3 linked regions of the Homo sapiens genome follow. The protein of the gene in region 1 interacts with the protein of each later gene in a pairwise test. Each region holds a gene or a part of one and is shown on either strand. Other genes may lie near its edges.

Region 1 (7,322 bases):
CTGGGGCATATTCACCTGCTGAGAGTGAGCCTGGGGGTGCTGGGTGGAGAGGAGAGAAGAGTCTGAGAGAGCAGCTGTGGGGAGCTGCAGGGAGGAGTGTGTTAGGGAGAAGGGAGGAAGACGGGGAAGAAATACATGTCCTGGGTATCCTGGAAGGGTGGGAAGAGTCCAGAGGACAGACCACCCGCCTGAGTGGTGCCACAAGTGCCACTTAACCCATCAGCTTCTCTTGGCTACTGTCTCCCAATACAGACACAAGTCAGTGTATCACAACATGGGTGACCTTTGCTGTCAGCCCTTGGTAGGTATCAGGTGCTATGTGAGCCTCTTTACACAGATAACTTAATCTGTCTACATGTCTGTCTTTGTTCAAGCTCTATTGCCTCAAATAAAATATTTTGATCGTGTTTAAAAAGCTATCAGAAATGTAGTACAGAATATTAAAGATTCCCAAATGTCCATTCCCAATGCGGCAGTTAACAGCTTCCCTGATATCTTTTTTTGGTCCACATTTTAGAGCTAACATGTTTCCCTAAAGATAGGATAATCTTTTGCTGGCTAGTCTACTTCCTGCTTTCTTTTCACTAAACAATACACTGTAGGCACTTTTCCATACCCAGGGAGATGACCGACCATTCTTTTCAAAGGCTATCTGGTATTTCACTTTGTGGAAAAAGCTATTTGGTCAAATGTCTATTAGTGAAATTTAGGTTGTTTTCAGCTTTTGCAGTATCAAAAACATAATTAGCATTCTAACTTTTAACTGTACACTGTTATCCAATTACTTCCCTGGGATAAAGTTCCAGAAGTAAAACTTAAGGTCAAAAGGTATGTATCTGACATTTACATAATCAGAACACCTGACACCCCCACCAACACTGCACAACTACCCAGAATTCTTCAAACCTCTATCAACACCACTTTCTGCTGTTACTGTCATTTAGACTTATATACCTGACACCTGGCCATTTGATTTTTTCTTTTTTTTTCTTGAGAGGGAGTCTTACTCTGTTGCCCAGGCTGGAGTGCAGTGACACGATCTCGGCTCATTGCAACCTCCGCCTCCCAGGTTCAAACAATTCTCCTATCTCAGCCTCCCGAGTAGCTGAGATTACAGGTGTTTGCCACCATGCGTGGCTAATTTTCGTATTTTTAGTAGAGATGGGGTTTCGCCATGTTGCCAGGCTGGTCTCAAACTCCTGACCTCAGGTGATCTGCCCACCTCGGCCTCCCAAAGTGCTAGGATTACAGGCATGAGCCACCATGCCCAGGCTTTTCTCCTTTTTTATTATTTTTATAAAGATGGAGTCTCACCATGTTGCCCATGGCTGGTCTCAAGCTCCTGGGCTCAAGCGATCCCCTTGCCTCGGCCTCCCAAAGTGCCGAGATTACAGGTGCCCACCACCATGCCCAGCTGGCTTTCTTTTTTAATGAATTGCTTCTTTGTGTCCTTTGGCCATTTTTCCATTCTGAAATAATCCCTATATTTCTTATTGATATATATATAACAGCTCTTTATACACACACACGCACATATATATACATTAAAGTTATCAATCTCTTGCTATATAAGCTGTCAGCTTTCTTACTTTTTTTGACTTTCACATATTATGGAATAGTCATCATTTTCTTTTATACAGCAGTCTGGTTTCCACATCAGTTCATCTCTTTCAGATCACTGTATACACTTAATAATGTTGAAGTGTTGATCAGTCCCATTGATTCTCATTCCTTGGCACTCCCCATGAGCCTCGCACCTTTCGGCTGGCTTCTCTCCATCTCCTCTCCCACAAGGGGTCCACCGTAGCACTGTATTCTACACTACAGTGTGGGTGCCAGGAGGGCAGAGACTCTTCTTATCACTCGTGCATCCCCAAGAGCACCCAATGTGGTACATATTTGCTGGACGAAAAAACAACTAGAACCACCTCCTTACCGGTCTCTCTGCTCCTGTAATATATTCTCTACACCCTAGCAAACAGATTGAACTTCTTTTACCCTCTCTCTTTTTTTTCCCCCCTGAGACAGGTCTCCCTCTGTTATCCAGGCTGGTGTGCAGTGGTGTGACCATAGCTCACTGCAGCTTTGAACTCCTGGGCTTAGGCGATCCTCCCGCCTCACCCTCCCAAGTAGCTGGGACCACAGGTGCACGCCACCACACTTTGCTAACAGACTGATCTTTTAAAGATATAAATCGAATTATGCCTCCCAGCACACTTTAGACTAAACTCTAAACTCCGTATCAAAAGGCCCGCCAGGTCCCTGGTATACCGCTCTCCAACCATCCACCTACCCTCTGCTTCAGGAACCCAGGCCTTATCTGTTTCTCAGCGGTGTCTACCGGGGCTGGATGAAGGCTGGCTCCTGGTCACTCAGGACTCAGCAACATCACCTCCTGCGTAGGCCAGCTGATGACCCTAACACCGGACGGCTGCCCTCTTCCCTCTCTAAACCACTCTACACCCCCTCCTCGCTGGTCTCCTCCTTTGTCTTTCACGCCCTCTGAAAGTCCTGTTGATATGCTAATTTACACAATCTCTCAAAAGAAAGGAAGCGTGAGGAGGATAGGGACCCCGTCAGTCCCCGGCTAGGTCGCGGGGCATGGGGCGTGGAGGGGTGGGGAAAGCTGGGCCCCGCAAGGCGCTCCGAAGCGCCGCCCCGCTCCCTCCCGGCGCACCTGGGCCTCGGCGTTCCGGCGCTCCTCCCAGTCGCGGCAGCTGGCCAGGTCGCGCTGCCACTGTTCGCAGGCCGGCCGCTCGCCGTGGACGTAGTAGTGGTGTAGGAAGTGCCTGGCGCTGCGGCAGAGCTTCCACTCGGCGCGGTAGGCCTCGCAGGGGCGCGGCGGCTGCGGCGAGAGGCGGCGCCTGAGCGGGGCCCGGCGGCCGCGCCCTACGCCCCGAGCCAGTCCCGTTCCCTCCCTCCGGAAGACCCCGGTGGTTCCCGGCTCCGACCCAGCACACTCACCTGCCAGCCGCTGCCGTCCGCCATGTCTGGGCGACCGGCGCGCCAAGCCCGCCCCTCAGTCCGCCAGCCAATGAAAAATGAAGAAAACGGCACCTCGTGATCGACTGACAGAAGAACTAATGAGCACCGACACATTCAATCACGTCTTCGCCCCCTTCTTCGAGAAGCGCCGACAAACAGGACGAGCAACCAATAGCAACCGAGGGCGGCTGCGGCGCGCGCGGAGGGCCGGGGTCGCAGGGTAAATCCGGGGCGAGACCTGGCGCGAAGCCTACGCGACCACCGCGACGACAGCGCCATTCACCCCGGGCCAGGCGGGCATCCTGGGCCGCGCAGCTACCTTACGTCAGCCGCCTCTCAAATCACACGGCTCTGGCCAGTTCTTTTCAGCAGCTTTATGAGATTTTCTCAAATCTCAACAATCCGGTATATTTTCAAAAGTACATACTGAGCATCAAGGTGGTGCAGCGAACCTCCCAGATCTGCAGCTCCAGCAGTCTTGCTTGAGCGTCCACTCAGGATGGAGGTGAACTCGCAAAGTAACTGAGATTGGTTGGGCATGACATATGGTGGATCTAGGGTTGAATGACCTCCCCAGGGAACGCAGGCTTGAAGTGGAGGCTGAGAATGCAATCCGAGTACAGCCATAGGCCGGTCAAAGGTATGGAGGCGGTGTGTAGCAGGGGTGAGCGGGGTAGGAGTGGCTTGGATGTCTGTAGTTCTATTCTAAGGGTGCGGGAGACATGTAACATTTACCTTATTCATTTTTCGAGACAGGGTCTTGCTGTGTCACCCAGGCTTAGTGCAGTGGCGTGGCGTGTTCATGGCTTACTGCAACCTCAAACTCCTGGACTCCGAACAGCTGGGACCAAAAGCATGCACAGCCTCACCAGGCTAATTTTTAATTTTTTTTTTTTTTTTTTGTAAAGATGGGGTCTTGCTAAGTTACCCAGGCTAGTTTGGCCTCAAGCGACCCTCTCACTTTGGCCTCCCAAAGTGCTAGGATTATAGGCGGAGCGCCAGTGCCTGGCTGGGACGTTTATAAAAAGGAGCAATGCACAAGAGGCAACAAAGGCAAGTAAAGAGGAGGCTGGTGGGCTTGCAGAAACGCCCTGCAGTACCTATGCTGCGGTTCTCCCACTTCACTGATAACAAATCCTCAGTATCCACTGATACAAATCCTGGGACTGCTGGGCCAGTCCCAGGAATGACACTGGGACAGACTCCCTGGAGGTGGATCAGAAAGCTGCAGTTTTACCAGGGGTCCTGCTGTTGAGGCAGCCGGCTCAAGGACCAAGCCCAAATAAGACACTGAGAGGAAGGCTGCAGGCCAGGGTGCAGGAGTAATGACCAGGATCAGTGCTCCAACTGGCCCCACTGTGTCATTAAAAGGCTCTGCAATGGAATCCATCCTGGTCCAGGCAGGGGAGTGTGCCTCCAGCAAAGGACCAGGCGTTTCACTGCATACACAGCAGGTGTTGCTTAGTGAAGACAAAAACCCAGAGCCAGAGGTACTGTAACATTCTTCATTATGCATAAAGTGACAGTCTGTTAGCTGATGTGATCCTGCAAATGAAGGCTGTCTACCCACCAAGGGTTTCTCCCTCTGCTAGTAAAACTGAGACTTTGTCAGTGGAGGCTCAGGTAAGTCCCCACAGTGCTCATGCCTTCCAAAACCACGCCCATTTCCAGTGATGATGGTTTGTGCCACAGGCCAAGTACTGAACATCATGACACTCATAGACACTCTTCACTGAAGACGTGGATAGACCCTGGGGCCACCATTCTCTCCTCTCTGGAGTGTTGGAGGGGCCCTGACCAGGGCAGGACCCCCATGTCTGGAAGCAGGGTTAGCCCTGGCTCATGGGGGACCCTGCTGGGCTTAGCCATTGCCACCTAGGGATCAGGCAGCCTTGTTTCTTCCTACTTTCTCCAGGAGAAGCCCCAGAGGGACACTTTTCTAATGGTGAGATGGAACACGGAGCACCTGCCAACAGGCCTTCAGTTATGGTCAGAGGCCCAACCACCAGTCTGTGTTAGTACCTAATCAAACATTTAGATTTAGGCTTTAGTTATTGCCTGTTTTTACTTGAAATTCTTGGCTTAGAATTATTCCCAATGGGGCCAGGCACAGTGGCTCATGGGAACAAATTTAAAATAATCAGATTAGCATGTCAAAAGATCTCACGTTATAGAAAGTGAAGATCTAAGACCAAATAAATACTGATAAAAAATACAGGCCAGCAGAAGCTTGGATGATTTAATAAATTAAAATTGGGAGTTGGGGAGTAGGGAAGAAGGAGAGGAACATCTCTTTAGCATTTGTTCATTCTAACATTCACATGTTTGCTTCTCCATGGAGTTGTTTCACTATGAACAGGTTCACTAAGGAGCCAGTTATGTCCATATGAAATGAGAATAAAAGTGCAAACTCATTCAGATCAGGTTCTTCTGAGTGGTGTTTTTGAAAAAAATATGTAAAATAAAAATAGAAACATTCTTTGTCAAATACTTAAATTGCAGCCACAGTAGTGGGACAGCCACTACTTATAGAACACATGTCTATTTAAAGCCTTTTTTTAGGCCAAAGACTGACACCTATGCAATTGATGTAGGAAAAGAAAGGATAAATGAAGAAAAAGAAAGAACACTTCATGTTAGACAATTTAGTCACCTTCATAGGTTTTGACAGAATTAGGGATGCAGAATTGCTCCTGCTGAGGCAGTGGGAGCTCCCCTCAAGCTGAAAGCGTGAAGAGGTGAGGAGGCAGCTATCTACAGGCCCTCAGGGACAGCTCTTTGTCTTTCCCCAAATCAAGCATACAACTACAAAGTCCTGCTGCTCCACTTCCAAGTCAAACTTAATAATTCTTAGGTAACTCTAAATAAATCTTAAGTAACAGAGTATTCTCTGATGAGGCTCGTCCCTGTCAGTGCCAGTAACTAAAAGCCAAGATGTTGCAAATGATTCTTTTATTATTTTCCAATCAGCCAACAGTCCTCACTTAGGGCTTTCTTCCCTTTTTACGCAATGACTGTCCTTCTCCAGAGAAAGCGACGAATCTGCCTCCAGCTTCATCCTAGGTTTGAAGAGAAGATACTATTTTCAGAAACTCCCTGGAGGTTTACAATAAATGCCTTACTCTATGGACTCACGTACCATCCACATTACTCATAAGAAATATCTCAGGCTGGACACGATAGCTGACACCTGTAATCCCAGCACTTTAGGAGGCCTAGGTGGGAGGATCACTTGAGCCCAGGAGTTCAAGACCAGCCTGGGCAACATAGTGAGATCCCATCTCTACCAAAAATAGCTCAGTGTGGTATGTGCCTATGATCCCAGCTACTTGGGAGGCTGAGACGGGAGGATGGTTTGAGCCAGGGCCATAGTGAGCTATGATTGTGCCACTGCTCCAGCCTGGATGGCAGAGCAACAGAGCAAGACCCTGCCTCAAAAAAAAAAAAAAAAAAAAAAGTCTGTAAGTTCATCACCCAAAAACATTTCAGGTCACTTTTCTGTACATGCTTAAAGAATTGTTTTCCCACTTAATTCTGAAATCTCATGCCAATAAACTTCCTGTCTAGTATACTCCCAAGGCTACAGAACTGAATTCTGTAAAAAAGAATTCCATGATGTAGGAGGGCCAGTTTTCTACCAGTGGACATTGTTGTGGTAAGCAGCTTAATGTATTTGCACACAACTCTGATTTTTTTTAGAGCTCAAATTCCTGGGTCAAAGTGTGTACACACTTTTAATGCTTTTAACATATAGAGACCAACCAGCCCTCAGAAACATTCCACTAAGCTATCCTTCCATCAGCAGAAAGAGGGATTGTTTTTTCCCAAACCTTTGAAAACTGCACATATTTTTTTTCACATGCTTTTATTGCTAGTCAGTCTGAGGCATTATCTCAACTTTTCCCTAGGAAGAAGAGGATTCTGGAATGTTCAACACACATCCCTGCACCTGGCTCCCCACTAACTGTAGCATGTTATACCTGCAATAGAGCACTGTTTAGTATTTATGTGGTCACATTCATGTAAATTTGAGTCACAGCTGCATTTAGTCTTCCTTTGCCGCACAGCCTTCCATTCATCCTGGTGTCAATAGCTGTGTTTGGCTTCTTCCTCTATTCAATCACAGCCTGCATTGCATGGAGTTCATCTGTTTTGACAAACCTGTGTCTCCTGGGCCTTCGCCCTGCCGTACCTGGACTGGCCTTTCTCTAGGTGCCGTACATGTTAGTGGGGGCTCCTTATTTCCTGGATTCTATGACTTTCTTATTTCTACCTTATTCCTTCATTTTAGTGAGGAACACCTCCTAGGAGCTTCCTGAGAAAAGATGCATGAGGAT
Region 2 (5,799 bases), on another chromosome or scaffold:
AATACAGTGCTGAGAACAGTGCCTGACATTTAAAAGTTCTACTGTAGTGATAATAAATGCACAAATATATAAATATCAACTTGGATATGTTTTAGATATTTTTATTTAAATAAATTTAATATAAAAAGAAAGCTACAGATACATATATGTATCCAATAAGATGGCATTTTTGTAACTTAAAACAACAATAAATGGTATAAACCGATAAATATATGTATAGACAATTTCCTGGAATGCTATGCAAAAACGAATGCATTATTGTGATGCCTTTGGAAAGATATGAAAAAGAATCAGACTGAGAGACTGGCCCACAAGGGGTCTCTCTCTGTAAGATAGCGAATAGAATGGTGGTTACCATAGGCTTGCAAGGGTAGTGGAAAGAAAGGACAGAGAGGTGTTGGTTAATGGGTGCAAAAATATAGTTAGATAGGAGGAATAAGATCTAGTGTTCAGTAACACAGTACAGCAACTGTGGTTAACAATAATGTATTGCATATTTCAAAATAACTAGAAAAGTAGATTTGGAATGTTCTCAACACAAAAAAAATGATAAATGTTTAAGGTGATGGATATGCCAGTTACCCAGATTTGATCATTACACATCGTGTGCCTGTATCAAAATATCACATGTACCCCATTAATATGCGCAACATTATGTATCCATAAACATTTAAAATAAAAAAGAGAAAGATGAACGCAAATCTGACAACGTGGTAACAATTGTGAGTTTAGGCATCCAGAAAATGACTCTAGAATTTACTTTAATTTTCTATTTGTTTTCAGTAAATGCAAGGGTAAGGTCTCAGAAGAGATAAGAAGAACCGAGAGGTGTGTAAGCAGGCTGTTTATAAATCTTTTTGTTTGTTTGTTTGTTTGAGACGGAATCTCACTCTGTCGCCCAGGCTGGAGTGCAGTGGCATGACCTTGGCTCACTGCAACCTCTGCCTTCCAGTTTCAAGCGATTCTCCTGCCTCAGCCTCTCCAGTAGCTGGGATTACAGATGTCTGCCACCACGCCTGGCTAATTTTTGTATTTTTAGTAGAGACGGGATTTCGCCATGTTTGAAAGGCTGGTCTCAAACTCCTGACCTCGTGATCCACCTGCCTCGGCCTCCCAAAGTGCTGGGATTACAGGCGTGAGCCACTGCGCCCAGCCTGGCCTTTTTATTTCAAACGAAAGTCATGGATGATGAAGACATAAAATGGATGAATTTGAAGCAGGAAGAGCTGTAGTGAAGTTAGAGGAGGTGCCAGGGCCTGGAAAAGTCTCAAACAATGAGGCCGGATGACCTCCGAGAAAGCCACAGGCCTGGGTAGGCTTGCATGGGGGACTGGGAAGAGACCATGAACAGGTTAGTCCAGGGAGTTCTCATCAAGCCTTTACTCAGTAGTGGGTTCTTCATAGTTAGCATTAATGTTTAATAGATACATTTCCCCTTGGGTGAGAATTTTAAAAATAAAATCTAGTGTAAAGCAGCTGTTATGAAGACTCTTTAGTGACCAGACAATAAAAGCCTCTCCTAGGTCTAGAGAAGGCAGAAAATTAAAAAGTGAACAGAAAGTAAAAAGGTGGCCGGACGCGGTGGCTCACGCCTGTAATCCCAGCACTTTGGGAGGCCGAGGCGGGTGGATCATGAGGTCAGGAGATCAAGACCATCCTGGCTAACATGGGGAAACCCCGTCTCTACTAAAAATACAAAAAATTAGCCAGGCGTGGTGGCGGGCACCTGTAGTCCCAGCTACTCGGGAGGCTGAGGCAAGAGAATGGTGTGAACCCGGGAGGCAGAGCTTGCAGTGAGCCAAGATTGCACCACTGTACTCCAGCCTGGGTGACAGAGCCAGACTCCGTCTCGGAAAAAAAAAAAAAAAAAAGAAAGTAAAAAAGGTATAGGGCAGTATATATGGATTTTTACTATTTCTACTACTGCCTAATATTTGGTTAATTTGAAAGCTTTTGAAGAATCTCTGGAAACATTGCAATAGAAGATTGTCAGTTTAAAGCTTCTGCTACATTACTATGTTAACTTGGAAAAACAATCACTTTTCAAGTAATTCAGATCATAGGCTACTTGTGGCTACTGTGTACTGTAATGATAGTTTTATTCTCTGTAGTGTTGTTATGCCTAAATTTCTAAAGAGAAAAGAGAAAGAAGAAAGAAAGAAAGAGAAAAGAAAGAAAGAAATAGAAAGAAAGAGAAACAGAGAAAGAGAGAGAGGGAGAAAGGGAGGGAAGGAGGCAGAGAGAGAGGGAGGGAGGGAAAGAAAAGAAAGAAAAAGAAAAGGAAAGAGAGGCAGAGAAAGAAAAGAAAGAAAAAGAAAAAGAAAGAGGGAGGGAGGGAAGGAAGGAAGGAGAGAGAGAGAAAAGATTTCAATATCACGTTTTCCCTGACATATCAAGATAGTGAATTTTTCTTTCTATACTAATACTTTGCCTGTGTATGTAGAGTACGTAGAGTATTTTATTAGTTCCAGAATCCACTTTTGAACTGTTAAGGCTACTCTAGTTTTGTTCTGCTTTTTCTGCCTTTCAGATGGACACATTTATTAGCATTTGGGAGTTGTTCATTAGCATTTGTACAAAGTGCACAAATAACTCCTAATAAAAAGTGTTAACCCAATTAGGAATGGGTGGAGGGACTGTTAATTGGAACTGACTTACTCCCAAGTTATTTTAGTGTTTATTCCCAGACATAGGGAGCTGGTCTAGAAAGGCAAGAACTTTTGGATATTAGTAAGTTTTTTGTTTTCTTTTTTTTGAGCAGAATCAACCTGTAGTAAGAAAAGAAAAATATTTCTCATTTTAAAGGTGTTAAAAGCTGCCATTATAAGGAATCCCATGTGTTGGGGGTGGTGCATACTTTTTGGTGAATTTAATAGGTGTCCATTCATAAAGCACAGCTTATTTTACTTCAGTGAATCAGAGTGATGGTTTAAGTATTGCACAAGGGCACTTCATGTGATGCATGCCACACTTTGGATTCTGCATGGGAGAGATAATCATAAAACAAAGTAACTAAGTGCTCTGAAACAGTGTGCTTTGGAATGAAGGAAGTTAATTTTCAGGTAGTTAAGAGGCTCTCTTTTCGATAACCATTGTGAATGCCATTTCCCTTAGTTAAACCAAATAAAATGTCAAATTCAAAAGAAGAAGAATAGACACAGATAAGAAGCCTCTTCCCCCCATTAATCTAAACATGGATTACCAATATTCTTTCTCTTTCTTGGGCTAGGAAGTGAAATATACTTCAAATGTATGAAGATCAGTAAGGCATAGAATTCCCCAGTTGAACACTATTCAGTGTGAATATTGTTAGGAAAAGTAAATAAGGCTTTGTTAGGCTTTTATATCTTAGTATAAATAAGCTTAATAGTTTCTTTTCTGAGACAAGTTAAAGTTGAATTTACTTTTATATTTGCAAGGTATTTGCAACTTGACTCTGAATAAGAAAACCATAATTAAAGCTTCAATTTTGCTTCTATCTTACTGAGAAATTAGGGGAAAGTTAAAGCTCTCTGAGAGGTAATTTTTCCATGTATGGGTTGAACAGGGGATGTTTAAAGACCCATATAACTCTAATACTTCAAGTTAAAAGCTTCAGAAAAATGTTAACAATTCCTCAAAGTTTAAGTATAAATTAATAATTGCAGCTAAGAATCTGTCCTTTTATCCAGAAAAAAAAATTGAAACATAAAACAAAATAAAATTTATGAGTTGATTTAGAGCATAACCATAGAATAGTGCTTGCTACAAGATAGGTTCATCAGAAAATATCTGAAAAACTTCAATTTAAAGTCTTACTAAAAAGTTTGTGTTTATTGTTTCCTAAGTGAGCATTGTCTAAAGTAGCCTCTTGTTAAGGAAGATGCCTGATATGGACACCCAACATAATGCTGCACTCCTCAGTTCTGATCCTGAGCTCTTAAGGTACTAGTAAAAGGTTTAACTGACAGATTGCTGAGGCTACTGAATACAGTTAGTATTTGGAGAAATCCTCCGTTTCTGGTAACAAATAATATGCTTGTGTTAAAAAGAAGGACAATCTATTTTGAGTAGTAACCACTGATGCTCCTGATAACTTAAGGGAAGTAAAGAAAGAATTTTGTGTAATTCCATTTGGTACAATAAGGACTCACTGTACTCAAATAATAAGAGGCAAGATACTCATAAATGTGATGACATATAACATTGAAGGTCAAACCACAGTGAATTCCAGGAAAAAAAAAAACTGAGTGGCTTCCTTCTAAGTGTTCCAGAGTGACTAAAGTACAAGTAAGTATATGAAGATGTGATAAATTAAACAATAACCTAGGGAAGCATTCTTATAATAAAAAGTGAGCAAGGAGAAGGGAGTGTCGAGACAGTGGACACACCCAGGTCTAAGAGCATATATAACTTGGAGTCCAGACTATGACATTCAAACTCAGAGAATCTTTCCACTATAACTCAGCTGAACTCACATCTCCCGTCAACATGTCCTACAACTGCTGCTCTGGAAACTTCTCCTCCCGCTCCTGTGGTGACTACCTGCGCTACCCAGCATCCTCACGTGGCTTTTCCTACCCCAGCAATCTGGTCTACAGCACTGACCTCTGCTCTCCCAGCACCTGCCAGCTGGGTTCCTCTCTCTATAGGGGCTGTCAGGAGATCTGCTGGGAGCCCACCAGCTGCCAGACGTCCTATGTGGAGTCCAGCCCCTGCCAGACCTCCTGCTACCGCCCCAGAACCTCCTTGCTCTGCAGTCCTTGCAAGACGACTTACTCTGGGTCTCTAGGCTTTGGATCCAGCAGCTGCCGCTCCCTGGGCTATGGATCGAGGAGCTGCTACTCAGTGGGCTGTGGGTCCAGTGGTGTCAGATCCCTGGGTTATGGAAGCTGTGGCTTCCCTTCCCTCGGCTATGGATCTGGATTCTGCCGCCCAACCTACTTGGCTTCTAGGAGCTGCCAGTCTCCTTGTTACAGACCAGCCTATGGATCAACCTTCTGCAGATCAACTTGCTGAATTTCCAGACCTTTTAAGCAAAGTGTCTCAGTCTCTACGTAGAGCTGTTATCATAGGCATTTCCAGCAATGTGAGCTAACCCCTCTTACTACTAGCTCTTCATCCTTTCTCTGGCATCAAGTACTGGCTGGACAGGCTAGTTCTTTCAGACTGTGAAATTAATGAATGAGCAAAATATAGAGTCAAATGTCTATAATTTTGAAACAAGTGATTCGTTATCACGTAAGTTCATCTTATAAAGTATATGGAAGTTCAGTTTTGTTTCACGTAATAAATTCATTTACTGTTGATTCCAATATGTTCTCTTTGTCTTTTATTGGTTTCCAAAGTTTGATTTGTGATCTGTTTTGGGGGCTCCAGGCCCCCAGACGTCTTTTCCTTGGACATCCATTTCCATCGGTAATGTCATCAGGCCTAGTGTGTGGGGAGATTCTCCGGGCATGCCAGTGCCTAAAAGACTGAGCAAGTGCATGTCTTCTGCCATGAAAACTGGTTGGATTCTTAACAGAATTATTGAGAGTACACTCATAATGGTGGTGTGTTTTCAAGGAAGACACATTTTGCTGACAATCATATTTGCTTTTTGTTTACATTTTTAAAAGAGTATTTAGAGTTTTCTCAGAAGATGTCAACTAGGTGATTAAATATAAAATTATGAAATATTTGAATAAATCTGAAATGTTATGATGGAAAAGGGAAAATATGAAATGTTAGGTACTGGAGGACATTACGGTTGTGTTTAAATATAGGAGAAAATTAATTATTCAGTGTGTGTGTGTGTTTGTGTTGTGTGTGTGTGAG
Region 3 (7,680 bases), on another chromosome or scaffold:
TTTCGTTTTTCTTTTTTTTTTTTTGAGACCAGGTCCTACTGTGTCACCCAGGTTGGAGTGCAGTGGCATGATCATGGCTCACTGCAGCCTCGACTTCCTGGGCTCAGGTGTTTCTCCCACCTCAGCCTCCTGAGTAGCTAGGACTACAAGTACACATCACCATGCCTGGTTAATTTTTTATTTTTCTGTAGAAACAGGGTCTCATCATGTTGCGCAGGCTGGTCTCGAACTCCTGGGCTCAAGCAATCCTCCCATCTCAGCCTCCCAAAGTGCTGGGATTACAGCACTTTGAGCCATTGTGCCCAGCCGATCCTGCATTTCTAGCAAGCTTCCAACGGATGCCATATATGGCTGGGCCCACGTTTTGAGTATCAGGGATAGAGGTACCTTTTACGTAGCACTTCTGTGTCCTAGGTACTGTCCTAAAGCATATATCTAGCCAAGAGGCAGCTCTCTCTATATTCCCTTTCGTTAATTCTCACCAAAATCAGCACCAAAATGGGGTCTACTATTATCCCCACTTTGATAATGAGGAAATTGAAGCACTGAGAAATTAAGAAACTTGCCCAGGCTGGGCGTGGTGGCTCACGCCTGTAATCCCAGCACTTTGGGTGACCAAGGCAGACAGATCACCTAAGGTCAGGAGTTCGAGATCAGCCTGGCCAACATGATGAAACCCCATCTCTACTAAAAATACAAAAAAGCCAGACATGGTGGCGGGCGCCTGTAATCCCTGCTACTCGGGAGGCTGAGGCAGGAGAATGGCTTCAACCTGGGAGATGGAGGTTGCAGTGAGCTAAGATTGCGCCACTACACTCCACCCTGGGTGACAGAGTGAGACTCTGTCTCAAAACAAGAAAAAAGAAACTCGCCTAAGATCACACAGCTATTAAGAGATAGAGCTGAGGCCGGGCACAGTGGCTCACGCCTGTAATCCCAGCAATTTGGGAAGCTAAGATGGGCGGATCACCTGAGGTCAGGAGTTCAAGACCAGCCAGGCCAACATGGTGAAACCCCATCTCTATTAAAAATACAAAAAATTAGCCAGGCGTGGTGGGAATTAGTCAGCTACTGGGAAGGCTGAGGCAGGAGAATCGCTTGAACCCAGGAGGTGGAGGTTGCAGCGAGCCGAGATCGTGCCATTGCACTCCAGCTTGGGCAACAAAAGCGAAACTCTGTCTAAAAAAAAAAAAAAAAAAGAGAGAACTGAGATTCAAACCCAGGCCAGATGGCTCCTGTTTGCTTTTAATCACCCCACTGTACTCCCTCATGGTACAAGAGTCTTGGTCCAAGGTCTCCATTTGCCCACTGGATTATTTCCTTATTAGACTAGATTCCTATTCCCCGCCCTTGAGTTGTTTGCAAAAAATGCATCAGTGGGGGAGGACAAAGACAGGGCATCCCTGATAAGATTCAGAGAACACCCTGCTGGCTCCAGTGTTCCCAAAGAACTTGCTGCAGATGTAACAAGATGTCACAGATTCTCAACACCTTACCGCCTCCTGCCCCGCCCAGGACTACAGAATCAGCATCTCTTCAGGTGGCACCAGAAATGTATACATTAATACATTCTATGCTTGTTAACAATCCAGCTCCTGTGGCTGGGATGCAGGAGTCCCCTCTCCCACGCTCTTCCCTTGAGCCTCAGGAGACAACTGACTGCAGGAATATAAACCCCAGGAATTCTCTTAAGAGAAGCCAGCGGCTGCGTGCCTCTCCCTGGAGGCCCTCCCTTACCTTCCTCATCCCCTGGAGGGTAGAGTTTCAGGAGGGATAGATCATCTGGGATAAGGCGAAGGCTGCTTTTAACCTGCAAAGACAAAGAAGGGAGAGGGGTCAGGCCCAAGTCCTTCCCCTACCGAAAGAAAAAATTGGGGGTAATTCTTCCCTGACACCCAGCTCCCAAATCCTCCCTAAGATCGTGGACACCTTGGCCCTCTCCTGGCAACCTAGAAGTCCAGCTTCCCCAGGATTCAGAATGGAAGTACCCTTCACCCTTTCCTCCATCTGCCTAAGACACTCTGAAATGTATGCTTCCTTGCCCTTTTTAACTAGGTTACTAGCCGCCCCTCTACCCCTGACTCTTAGGGACTCTCAGCCCATTGCTCACACGACCATCGGGGGACCCCAGCCTCTGGAGCCGCCCAGTCCTCTCTGAACCCGCATGGACCCCAACCCCCAATACTGCAGCTCCCTGGCTTCATTTGCCATGGACCCCAACCTCAAAATCCAACGGCCCCAGGTCCTCCCAGTCCCTCTCCAAAATCTCAGGAATCCCAGCTCTTCAGCCTCCCTGTGCCCCCAAGACTCTAGCTCCTAGGAATCCTAAACTTCCAACGCATCCCACCCTCCTTCACCACCCCAGTCTGCAGAAAGTCCCGGAGCCCTGCCTCTCCCTGCCTCCAACACCCTAACGCCCGAGGACCAGCCCCAGAACGCCAGCCTCAACACCCCTATAGCCCTACCCTCCCCGAACGCCGGCCCCTCCCTGGAGGCCAAGCCCTTGGCCCTTCCGCCGGTCCCCTCCCCGGGACCGGGCGCACCTTCCCCGAGTACACCGGAACCAGCGGCGCCTCCCCCGGATCCAGCACCAGCCGCCGCCGCCGCCTGACCGGCTCCCGCGGGGGTCCTGCGGGCCGCCTGTCCTCCCCTTCGCTGTCACTGTTGCTGTTATCCCGGGACGCGACCGGCCCCGGGGGCTCCGGGGGCTCCACCTCAACCTCGTCCGCGGCACCGCGAGCGGTGGCGACCTCCAGAATTTCCTCATCGCTGTCGGTGACCAAGTCCACAGACACTACGTCCAGCGTGCCCCGGGATGGAGACCGCTGGGCCCGAGGACGCCGGCCCCGACCGCCCCAGCCGCCCCGACCCCCTCGGCCGGCACCGCTACCTCCGGACCAGCGGCCCCGCTTCCCCACAGGCTCCGCCATGGCACACTTTCCTCCACAACACACGCCCGCCTCCTCTCGCCTCGCCCCGCCCCCTTCAGCGACTTTCGCCTTGCATTGGACAAACAGCCTGCTCGTCAGCAACTCTTCGCGCCCCACGCGCGGGATCCGCCTTCCCGCCTTTTCATTGGTCTCTGTACCCGCTCATCATGCGCCCACCTCTGAAACCAAGGCGCCAAAGATTCCAATCACCTCGGCACAATCACCGTAGCTTTCGATTCAGTCGGCCTCACCCATTGGCTGGGCCACCTCTCCACAGACGAGCCTCTCCCGGACCCGCCCAACCAAGACAACCGTCTTCCGGCTTGGTTAGTCGCAGGGCATCCTGGGAAATGTAGTCCTCGAGCGGTAAGGTTTCCGGGAGAAGGAAGGCGGGCCTGGAATTCCCTGTGGAAACCGCGGATTTAACCAGGCGCGGTGCCTCACGCCCGTAATCCTGGCACTTTGAAAGGCTGAGGCGGGCAGATTGGTTGAGCTCAGGAGTTTGAGACCAGCCTGGCCAATGTGGCGAAACCGCGTCTCTACTAAGAATGCAAAAATTACCCGGGCGTGGTGGCACCCCTCTGTGGTCCCAACTACTCAGGAGGCTGAGGTGGGAGTTTCGCTGGAGCCCGGGAGGCGGAGATCGCACCACTGCACCCCAGCCTGGGTGACAGGGCGAGACCCTGTCTCAAAAATGCTTTAAAGAAATAATAAGGCTGGCCGCGCGCGGTGGCTCACGCCTGTAATCCCAGCACTTTGGGAGGCCGAGGCAGGCGAATCACGAGGTCAGAAGTTCAAGACCAGCCTGGCCAACACGGTGAAACCCCGTCTCTACTAAAAATACAAAAATTAGGCGGGCGTGGTGGCGTGCGCCTGTAATCCCAGCTACTCAGGAGGCTGAGGCAGGAGAATTGCTTGAGCCCGGGAGGCAGAGGTTACAGTGAGCCAGATCCTGCCGCTGCACTCCAGCCTGGCCGACAGAGCGAGACTCTCTCTCAAAAAAAGAAAGAAAGATAGAAATAATAAGGCTGGGCGTGGTGGCTCACGCCTATAATCCAGCACTTTGGGAGGCCGAGGTGGGCAGATCACCTGAGGTCAGGAGTTCGAGACCAGCCTGACCAACATGGTAAAACCCTGTCTCTACTAAAATACAAAAATTAGACAGGCGTAGTGGCAGGCGCCTATAATCTCAGCTACTCGGGAGGCTGAGGCAGGAGAATCGCTGGAACCCAGGAGGCAGAGGTTGCACTGAGCCAAGATTGTACCACTGCACTCCAGCCTGGGCAACAGAGTGAGACTCCATCTCAAAAAAAAATCTTATGTATTTATTTATTTTTAAATTTTATTTTATTCATTTATTTAATTTTATTTATTTATTTATTTTGAGATGGAGTTTCGCTCTTATTGCCCAGGCTGGAGTGCAATGGCTCGATCTCGGTTCACTGCAACCTCTGCCTCCCAGATTCAAGCAATTCTCGTGCCTCAGTCTCCAAGTAGCTGGGATTGATTACAGGCGTGCACTACCATGCCCAGCTAATTTTGTATTTTTAGTGGAGATGGGGTCTCACCATGTTGGTCAGGCTGGTCTTGAACTCCTGACCTCAGGTGATCCACCCCCCTCCGCCCCCGCCTTGGCCTCCCAAAGTGCTGGGATTACAGGCGTGAGCCACTGCGCCCGACTATTTATTTTATTTTTTTCTTTTTCTTGATTCGGAGTTTTGCTCTGTTGCCCAGGCTGGAGTGCAATGGTGCGATCTCAGCTCATTGCAACCTCCACCTTCAGGGTTCAAAGGATTCTCTTGCCTCAGCTTCCCGAGTAGCTGGGATTACTGTTGCCTGCCACCTTGCCCAGCTAATTTTTGTATTTTTAGTAGAGACGGGGTTTCACCATGTTGCCCAGGCCGGTCTTGAACTCCTGACCTCAAGTGATCCACCTGGCTCGGCCTCCCAAAGTGCGGGGATTACAGGTGTGAGCCACAGCACCCAGCCTGGCATATGTAAATCTTCATGATGGCTACATAAGCCACTTGCCAGTCTCCAAATTCAGGAATTCAAGGACCTGGGAGCCCTGACGAAATGCCGTCGTCAAGGCAGTTAGCTCTCTTGTCTCCCATTTCCCCTAGGAGGGAAAAGCTTGGCTTCAGTCTTGCTCCAAGATGCAGGCTACCTCCTGTCCTAAAGATATGAAAAGTTTGTGTCTACTCACCCCTACCATACAAGCCAATTCAATAACACAGGTGGTCACCCCACTTACCATCATAAAGTTAGACTGGGGCCAGGCGTGGTGGCTCACGCCTGTAATCCCAGCACTTTGGGAGGCCGAGGCGGGTGGATCACTTGAGGTCAGGAGTTCGAGACCAGCCTGGCCAACATGGTGAAACCCCATCTCTACTAAAATACAAAACAAAATTAGCTGGGCATGGTGGTGTGCGCCTGTATTCCTAGCTACTTGGGAGGCTGAGGCAGGAGGATCAGTTGAACCCAGGAGGTGGAGGTTGCAGTGACCCGAGATCGAGCCATTGCCCTCCAGCCTGGGAGACAGAGCCAGACTCTGTTGCAAAAGAAAAAAAAAAAAGCCAGGCGCGATGGCCCATACCTGTAATCCCAGCACTTTGGGAGGCCAAGGCGGGCGGATGACAAGGTCCAGAGATTGAGACCATCCTGGCTAACACAGTGAAACCCTGTCTCTACTAAAAAATACAAAAAATTAGCTGGGCGTGGTGGCGGGCGCCTGTAGTCCCAGCTACTCGGGAGGCTGAGGCAGGAGCATGGCATGAACCCAGGAGGCGCAGGTTGCAGTGAGCCGAGATTGCACCACTGCACTCCAGCCTGGGCGACAGAGCGAGACTCCGTCTCAAAAAAAAAAAAAAAAAAAAAAGGCTGAACTATGTTTGACTAAAGGTGTTGTCACGTCCTCTTACGTGAGGACTAGTCATTGTTTATCTTGAAAACATGGTATTGCAACCACCCCTATAAACTTGAGAAGAAGGGAGAGGGAGAAATGAAAAGAAACCAAACTTGCGGTGCACTCAGCATTGATCTCAGGGCAGCTGCTCCCTGACCTGCTTCCCCAAAGCCATCTGGTGCCTGTTGCCCCACAGTCACACAGCCCCTGTCAGAAGATTATAGTTCCCCTTAACTGCTCTTGAATCACGGCTTGGACATTACATTAGGTGTTCCCTTTGAGATATTCCTTCAGGTCTTGATGGAACTACTGATTCAGCTGACCTGAAGGACCCCACAAGGAGCTGACTCCCCGCAAAATGCAGCTTCTACACCCTGACAATTTCATCCCCCTTCCCAACCAATCAATGACCCCAATATTCCAGCCCATCACTCCCCACAAACCCCTTAAAAGCCCAGCCCAGAACTCCCTGGAGAGAGATTTGAGGGTCTCCTCCCATCACCTCGCTCGGCACCCTGCAATCATTAAACTCTCTCTGCTGCATCCCCACCGTCTCAGAGTCACAGAGCTGTGACTGCACAGTGGGCATATGAACCTGCAGCTCCTGTAACAATATGGAATTTGAAATTTTATCTTGAAAACAGGATAATGGTTTACACCTGCTTGGCTGTAATGAAGGATATTTCTTTTTGCCTTTGCAATCTTTTACCAGATTGCCAGTGATGTGCATCACATTCTAACTTAATGCTTATTCAAGCCGGGTGCAGTGGCTCACGCCTCTAATCCCAGTACTTTGGGAGGCTGAGGTGGTTGGATCACCTGAGGTCAGGAGTTCGAGACCAGCCTGGCCAATATGGTGGTGTATTTTTCTACTAAAAATACAAAAAATTAGCCAGGCATTGTGGTGGGCACCTGTAATCCCAACTACTCCGGAGCCTGAGGCAGGAGGATCACTTGAACCCGGGAGGCAGAGGTTCCAGTGAGCTGAGATTGTGCCATTGCACTCCAGCATGGGCAACAAGAGTGAAACTCCATGTCAAAAAAGAAAGAAAAATTATGCTTATTCAATAATAAAACCAGCCCGGGCATGTTGGCTTATGCCTGTAATCCCAGCACTGGGAGCCTGAGGTGGGAGGATCACTTGAGGTCTAGGGTTCAAGGCCAGCCTGGGCAATATAGCAAGACCCTGTCTCTACAAAAAGTAATAATAATTAGTGGGTGTCGTGATGCACACCTGTAGTCCTAGCTACTTGGGAGGCTGATTGAGCCCAGGAGTTCAAGGCTGCAGTGAGCTATGATCTCACCACTTCACTCGAGCCTGGGCAACAGAGCAAGACCCTCTCTCTAAAAATAAATAAATACATACAATTTAAGGCCAGGCACAGTGGTTCACGTCTGTAATCCCAGCACTTTGGGAGGCCAAGGTGGGAGGATCACTTCAGGCTGAGCGTTAAGACCCGCCTAGGCAATATAGTAAAACCCCCAACTCTACGAAAAATAATAATACATTTTAAAACTTTTTTTTTTTTGAGATGGAGTTCCACTCTTGTTGCCCAGGCTGGAGTGCAGTGGCACAATCTTGGATCACTGCAACCTCCACCTCCCGGGTTCAAGCGATTCTCCTGCCTCAGCCTCCTGAGTAGCTGGGATTACAGACATGCGCCACCACGCCTGGCTAATTTTTTGTACTTTTAGTAGAGATGGAGTTTCACCATGTTGGTCAGGCTGGTCTCGAACTCCCAACCTCAGGTGAGCCGCCCGCCTCAGCCACCCAAAGTGCTGGGATTACAGGCGTGAGCCATCACGCCAGGCCCATTTTACAACTTTTTAACCAAAAATAATAAT

The links. Proteins that work in one complex are often made in the same cells at the same time.
Region 2: the proteins of C22orf39 (region 1) and KRTAP13-2 interact in binary tests that used the Homo sapiens proteins (3 or more experiments, as listed by UniProt).
Region 3: the proteins of C22orf39 (region 1) and NFATC2IP interact in binary tests that used the Homo sapiens proteins (3 or more experiments, as listed by UniProt).

The regions. Positions count from the first base shown.
Region 1 is NC_000022.11:19,444,701-19,452,022, forward strand, and holds the start of C22orf39 (synaptic plasticity regulator PANTS), read right to left. Parts: upstream 3,012-7,322; 5' UTR 2,989-3,011; coding exon 2,965-2,988; exon of another isoform or gene 2,846-2,964; coding exon 2,678-2,845; intron 1-2,677. Other genes in the region: UFD1 (ubiquitin recognition factor in ER-associated degradation protein 1), read right to left, coding at 5,970-6,044. UniProt on the Homo sapiens protein: Negatively regulates long-term potentiation and modulates adult synaptic plasticity. Stabilizes the interaction of RTN4 isoform A/Nogo-A with its receptors, inhibiting clustering of postsynaptic AMPA receptors at synaptic sites.
Region 2 is NC_000021.9:30,370,885-30,376,683, reverse strand, and holds KRTAP13-2 (keratin-associated protein 13-2), read left to right. Parts: upstream 1-4,412; 5' UTR 4,413-4,470; coding exon 4,471-4,998; 3' UTR 4,999-5,294; downstream 5,295-5,799. UniProt on the Homo sapiens protein: In the hair cortex, hair keratin intermediate filaments are embedded in an interfilamentous matrix, consisting of hair keratin-associated proteins (KRTAP), which are essential for the formation of a rigid and resistant hair shaft through their extensive disulfide bond cross-linking with abundant cysteine residues of hair keratins.
Region 3 is NC_000016.10:28,946,262-28,953,941, reverse strand, and holds the start of NFATC2IP (NFATC2-interacting protein), read right to left. Parts: upstream 3,006-7,680; 5' UTR 2,931-3,005; coding exon 2,544-2,930; intron 1,811-2,543; coding exon 1,738-1,810; intron 1,041-1,737; exon of another isoform or gene 1-1,040. UniProt on the Homo sapiens protein: In T-helper 2 (Th2) cells, regulates the magnitude of NFAT-driven transcription of a specific subset of cytokine genes, including IL3, IL4, IL5 and IL13, but not IL2.